2 linked regions of the Homo sapiens genome follow. The main gene of each other region encodes a partner of the protein of the gene in region 2 in a complex. Each region holds a gene or a part of one and is shown on either strand. Other genes may lie near its edges.

Region 1 (3,500 bases), on a different chromosome or scaffold from region 2:
AACAGTCTTTCACAGGCAGTTAGGTTTCAGGTTTAAAAAACTCATTTACCACAGGTATAATTTTGAGTCTGTTTATTTTGATGGGAAAAATTTTAAATACTCCTTTTTTCCCCCCTGCAGAACATCCAGTCATGGATAAAAATGAGCTGGTTCAGAAGGCCAAACTGGCCGAGCAGGCTGAGCGATATGATGACATGGCAGCCTGCATGAAGTCTGTAACTGAGCAAGGAGCTGAATTATCCAATGAGGAGAGGAATCTTCTCTCAGTTGCTTATAAAAATGTTGTAGGAGCCCGTAGGTCATCTTGGAGGGTCGTCTCAAGTATTGAACAAAAGACGGAAGGTGCTGAGAAAAAACAGCAGATGGCTCGAGAATACAGAGAGAAAATTGAGACGGAGCTAAGAGATATCTGCAATGATGTACTGGTGAGAATCAATTCAGTCTGGCTTCATTATACTGTAGGGTCCCTATGAGTATCAGTTACATTACTCTTAACTTTTTGTTTGGTTTTTCTTTTCCTTCTAAACATTGTGTGTTCCAAATTTAAAAGTCTTCATGGTGTCATGACTAAAAAGATGTTAAGACAATTATAGATACGTGTATGTAAAATAATTGCAACAATGATTATGAAACAGTTCAGTTTTGTTAAAAATAACAGACTTTAGTATTGTATTTTATATTAATTGAAAATATAAACTAATTGTGTTACTGTTTTACTTATGGTTAGAATATTTGTAGTAGCTCTATAGCTGGTTATCTTAAATGTACATCTGTGGATAAAGGAATTTTACATACTTTAGGTAAGAGAGATGTAATAGGATACTCATTGTAGAAATAGTACTCTTCTCAGGATTAGCCGCTATAATGTTAATGTAATGAGTCAACCATGCAGAAAACTCTGGCGTCACAACTATGAAACCTCTTCCTGCATTGAATTCTTGAAGGTAAATTTTGAACACTCACAACCATGATGAAAGGTTATGAACAACTCAAGCTTGATTTTCCAGTTTGAATCGAGTATTTTAAGTATTCAGTACTTACTGTGTTGAAGCACTGCGCTTAAAAGAATTAAACTACATTTTGGTTAATTTTAATCTGTCATATAAAGTAGGGCTTTTTGATCAAGAATAGTTTAAATTTGAGGATAAACCAGTAGAGAATCCAACCAAGCTGGCAGTTTTTGGAATAATATTTAAAGTGGTTTTACTAAATGGTTACACTTAACCAGTATGGAAGGGCTCTGATATACAAAGAGGGGCAGCATCTCGATTTTTCTGGACAGATTACTGAATCTGGAACTCAGTATGGAAATCCAGGTTTGTTACTTACTATATGAACCTTGTTTATGGAAGAAGTGCTATAATGAGCAATAGGATAATGTCTGATGTGGTTGTGGGTTTGGGGTTTTTGTTAAAGTTGTGATGATACTATCATTTCTTTACATTTGTATTTACTAATGGAATAGCATCAGTTCCTAAACTGTAATTTTCTCAAATGATACTTACTTGACACTGTCTTTTTAAAGAATAGTGATTTTTTAAACATGCTTATTTGGGTTCACAGCCACAAACTCAATGAGGCATCTGTCTTGGGGCATTTTTTTGTTCTTTGCTTATTGAAACCTTTAGAATGATAGCTACTATTTGTATCTAAGTTGAAAAAAGGAATATCTTGCTTTTATTGGGGCCAAGTGACAAATGTCTGTTTTGTGATTTTGCTAAGGTAATAAGAATATTTAAATTTTGTTTTTTGTTTTTTTTTTTTTTTGAGACGGAGTCTTGCTCTGTTGCCCAGGCTGGAGTGCAGTGGCGCGATCTCGGCTCACTGCAAGCTCCGCCTCCCGGGTTCACGCCATTCTCCTGCCTCAGCCTCCCGAATAGCTGAGACTACAGGCGCCTGCCACTGCGCCCGGCTAATTTTTTTGTATTTTTAGTAGAGACGGGGTTTCACCATGTTAGCCAGGATGGTCTCGATCTCCTGACCTCGTGATCCGCCCTCCTCAGCCTCCCAAAGTGCTGGGATTACAGGCTTGAGCCACCGCGCCCGGCCAAATATTTAAATTTTGAAAATGTGATTTTTTTTTTCTATAATAAAAAATGTATTGGGTTTTTTTGTTTTTTTTGTTTTTTTTTTTTGCTCACCTTACTAACTAATATCTGTGTATGTGTAATTCAGTTTTGTTCAGTCTGGAGTGTTTTTCCCAATTATTACACCTGATCGAAAAGTTTTTATTTTGGCTTCAAAGGGTGTGTTACACATTAACATTTCCCTTAAGACAAAAGTCAATTTTAGGAATAAAAAGGAATGTAACATTTACCTTTTACTAACACGCTTATTTGCAATACCAGGTAGGTATGTGCATGTTTTCCATATACAAAGTATAAAAGTTCCTGTCATTGTGAGTCTTTTCCAAGGAAAAGACTTGTAGCAGGTTTGTTTTTTGTGTATGTTTGTTTGTTTGTTTGTTTTGAGACTGAGTTTTGCTCTTGTCACCCAGGCTGGAGTGCAATGGCACCATCTCAGCTCACTGCAACTTCCGCCTCCCGTGTTCAAGCAATTCTTCTGCCTTGACCTCCCGAGTAGCTGGGATTACTGGGCGTGCACCAGCACGCCCAGCTAATTTTTGTACTTTTAGTAAAGATGGGGTTTCACCTTGTCGGCCAGGCTGGTGACCAGGTCACGTCTAACTCTTGACCTCAGGTGATCCACTCGCCTTGGCCTCCCAAAGTGCTGGGATTACAGGAGTGAGCCACCACGTCCAGCCCAACTTGTAGCAGTTTTGACTATGCTTCCCTTTAGTTTCCTTATGAAGAAACTTTGTTTGCATAGAACCAGTAGATGAGGATAACAAGATAATCTCTTCATATAAATAGTTTCTTCTTGTTATGATTATTAAGGAAGTTCACTCTGGTCCCTACCCACATCGTTACCCTCCAGAATAGCACTGGCTTCCCAAAAAGTTTTAATGGTATTTACACTTTGAAAGTTTGGATAAATGAGAGTTTAATTTCTTTACTATACAAATGGCTTTGAAGAGAATTCTAAACAAGCTTTTGCTTCCAGCCTTGGTCTTTTCAGGAGTAAGACTTAGTGATCTTTGCATACTCAACGTGTAATAGATGCTCAAATATTTGTTAAACAAGCAGAAAGGCTTCTTTAGAGAAAGAGCATAGAATTAGGTCAGCAGCACTGCAAAATTTCCCTAGCTTTTTCTTTTTCTGCTTGGGAAAATTTGATATTTACCGATAATAGGCTTCTTTTTCCTACCATCTTTTTCAAATAGGTCACATCGACTCTGGAAACATATTGCATAAAATTCCTTCTGCCCTTTCTGTGAGATGGAAGAATAAAATGTAGCAGAACTGATATTTCTACTAGAAAAAGTTATTGAATCATTATTAATGATTAGTAAAAATATTTTAAATTATATTTTTAAGATCTTACATGATAAAAAATCAATTATAATTTTTTATTACTCCAGCCTTTTCTGGGCTTTGATA
Region 2 (3,500 bases):
TTTGTTTCTATCTTGTGTCAGCAATTAGAAAACTCTAGTGCCCCAAGTCCTGGGAGAAGAAATTTCATTAATTGGGCCTAAGCCTACCTGTTTTGCAGACCCCATGGGCCTAGTGATGGTCTGGGATGCCTGGCTCTAGGCCCTTCATGAATCAGACTACAGCCATCCCCCCCAACTCCCTGCCTCCACTTCCCAAAATCAAAACACCCCCTGACAGCACAGCAGCCCCTGACCCTGAACCCAGATCACGTTACTGGCTCTAGATAAAGTAGCAGCAAGAGAGGTGCATTTATTAATTTTTTCTAGCAGATATCTATGGAGTATGCAGTATGTGCCAGGCATTGTGCTAGGCTGGGGATAGAATGGTGAGTTCAACCCAGTCTCTGCCTGCAAGGAGCTCATAGATTAGTTGAAAAGAAGAGGCCTCCTCAGTGTGGTGAGTACTAAGTTAGGAGAGATGGTGAGGGCACCCACAAGAAGCTTTGCTCAAGCAGCCCTGGAGGGATGAGGAGGGTTCCTGAAGAAAGGGCATGTACATGGAGGTGGGGAAATTGCATGGATGTGGGGCAGAAGGCAGGGATAGGGGAGGGCATTCCAGGTAGAGGGCTAGCTATGCAAGGCTGGAGGCAAGAGAAAGCAGGAGGAAGCCCCATGGTTGGGCAGTGCCAGGGAGATGAACCTGGGGGATGAGGCAAGGACAAGCTCCTGAAGGGCCTCAGAAGCAGGTGAGCGAAAGAACTCAGGACTTTACCCCAAAAGCCGTGATGTGCAATGAAGCATCTCAATTGCTGGAGGAAGCACTAGGATGTTCAGGCAGGCCCAGGCTCAGTCCTAGTTCAGGATTTGGAGGCACAGAAAGAAAGGTAAGACTCAGCCCCTAACTTCAGGAAACTCACTGATGGGCAGATACCATGCACTGTGTTGGGAAACAACCAAGCTGTGCATGATGCATGCCCATGGCACACGAATGCTAAGATTTGAAGGCATGATGGGAGCTATCATTTATTGAGTGCACTCTGTATGCCAGGTTCTGCAGAAGGAACCTAATATCACATCTCACTCAGTCCTCAAGGAAACCTATAGTGTGCCTGTTACCACCCCCGTGTGACAGATGGAAAGACCACGGCTTAAAGAGGTTAACTTCACAGCGTCAATAACCAGGAAAGGATGGCACCAGAATGAGCTCAGCCGGTGATCTTCCTCCTACTCTATTCAGCCTTCCCTAAGTGTGGGCCAAAGGTTGTAGAAAAGGCTTCACGGATTAGGAAGGGACTGGCGAGTTAGAATGTTGTTCCCTGTGTCCCACTGTCATCTCTCAGGCTCTGCAGTGGGGGCCAGGAGCCTGACATTTAGGCATTAGGGGAGGCAGGGATGACTGAGGATCAGGATAAACAAGTGTCTCTGAGAGCCTGCCCCTCAGAATCTTTAAGTCGAGTCCAGTGCCTGCTCTGTGCGGGAGGTAGCAGCTTTTCAAAGAATAAAATCAGCGAGTAAAGAATATAATCTGCAGTTCTTTGCAAATTTGACGATGCTGTGCTGCCTACATACCATTAATAGGGGATGGGTTTTCCCAGAGATGTTTGCTTTGGAAAACTCCCAAGCCTCTACTGTTAACAGTTAGAGATTGCACATAGTGGGGATGGTTATTTGAATTAGAAATGGGTAACTCACATGCACCTGAAATGTCTCCAAGTAAAGTAGGGTAGGGGCCAAGTTGTATAAGGAGATGGGTGAGCCAAGTCTGTAACGATCATGAAGAATGGCATACTCTCTCAAATGCCACAGATGATTCTGGAACCTCAAGAATCTCAGAGCTGAGCTAAATGGCTCTCCAAGATAGCCCACCATGGAGCTAAGGTCCTCTGGAATGACACCACTAGCAGTATTGACTGAGCCTGGTTCCCTGATTCACAACAGCAAGTCGTGAAATTCAGACATCCTGTAGGATCTAGCTTTACCACTATGCTCAGTTGACCTCAAGAAATGAAACCAGCTTCCATGATTAACAGACACTAATGACCAACAGGTGAAACACAATCAGGTAAATGGGGAGAGCCAGTGCCAGAGGGCTTACAGATTTTCTGAAGTTCTTCATACACAGGTTCCCCTCATTAGCAGCCATCTGGGAGGGAGCTGGGGATGATTCTGAAACCTGGAGAATCCCGGTCACTATATCATACATTAGTTGAAAAGAGGGAGCCTCCTCAGTGTGGTGAGTGCCAAGTTAGGAGAGATGGTGAAGGCATCTCCTGCCTACACGCCTTGTACAGCCAGCCCTCTGCCTGGATTATACCGGTCTACCACATACCTGGGCAAGGCTCGTCCTTAGTGACGTTACAAATGGAATATTCTTCTTGCCCTATTCCTTGACTCTCTTTTTCTCCTTACTGCCACCCCTACTACTCCATTATCCCCTTCGGCTCCAGCTCCCCCGGCGTGGATGCTCCTGGCTTGCCTTCTGGGATGATACCCAGGGCTTCCCTAATTGTTGCCACAGCCTACCCAGCCCGCTCCTCCCTCTGGACTGACTCACTTCGCCAGGCACAGAGGGCCCATAGCCTGCAATCCTCCCCAGTCAGTGAATCCCTCCCCCTTCCACAGAGATCTTCAGAAGAGGTGTCGCCACACCCTTTGCCCAGGCGCCACCCTCCCGCGTCAGTGTGCGTCACCGTGGGGATGGTCTTTGTTGTTTCCCTCTCAAGCAGGGCCCTCCTTTTCCTCTTGTTCTGTACACACTGGAGAGGGAGAACAGATGGTCCTCCTGCCGGGGGCCAGCCCTCCTGGCAGAGGTGACCAAACCACCCGGCTTTCCCATCTCAGGGGCATCATGGACACCCCTCAGCTATAGGTTCTGTTTCTGGGGATCCCTTGGGTTTTCTGTGTGTCCCCCCCTTCCCCCTTCCAAGGTCTCTGAGACCTGCTGACCTATGCAGCTCAAGCCCAGAGAGAAGACACCAGGCAGGACTGGTGGTGCTAAAAGATGGTAGAAATCAGTTTGTCCCTCCTCCGTGCTGTTTGTGATTTTGATTTCAACCTGGGACGAGTTGAAAACAGTCCCCCGCGCAGCTCACCCGGCCCACGTTACCCACTATCTTCCCGGACTCACAGCTGTCTCCACCCATGCTTGCCTACTGGCAGGCCTTTCCGGCTTTATTTTGCCTAGTGGTGTTACCAAAATGTCTCCTGGTTGAACTTGACTCTTGTTATATCTTCCAATTTCTCCCGTGTCCAGATTTCCAGACCTTACCCACTGTGGAAGGCATCACACTGAAGCCCAGACATGAGTTCTGGGTCTGCTCTTACCCAGTCCAGTGACCCTGGGAAAGTCAACAAACCTCTCTGAGCCAGTTTCCTCATCTGCAGGATCAGGATGTTACCAGCCTGTTCTGAGGATCAAATGAGCGAATAAATGCAAAGATTCTTTGTAAACTGTAAACCAACATTCTCCAAACTGCATTCTGCAGACCCTGCTCTCAGGAGAGGTGTTCATAAACTATTTA

Evidence for each region. Proteins that work in one complex are often made in the same cells at the same time.
Region 1: the proteins of PRKCE (region 2) and YWHAZ are in contact, whole or in part, in a crystal structure (PDB 2WH0), measured with the Homo sapiens proteins. Residues at the interface, in NP_005391.1 of Homo sapiens: Lys365, Ala366, Leu367, Ser368, Phe369, Asp370, Asn371, Arg372; in NP_001129171.1 of Homo sapiens: Asn42, Ser45, Val46, Lys49, Arg56, Lys120, Arg127, Tyr128, Gly169, Leu172, Asn173, Val176, Glu180, Leu216, Leu220, Asp223, Asn224, Leu227, Trp228.

Annotation. Positions count from the first base shown.
Region 1 is NC_000008.11:100,945,521-100,949,020, reverse strand, and holds part of YWHAZ (14-3-3 protein zeta/delta), read left to right. Parts: intron 1-120; 5' UTR 121-131; coding exon 132-425; intron 426-3,500.
Region 2 is NC_000002.12:46,179,675-46,183,174, forward strand, and holds part of PRKCE (protein kinase C epsilon type), read left to right. Parts: intron 1-3,500.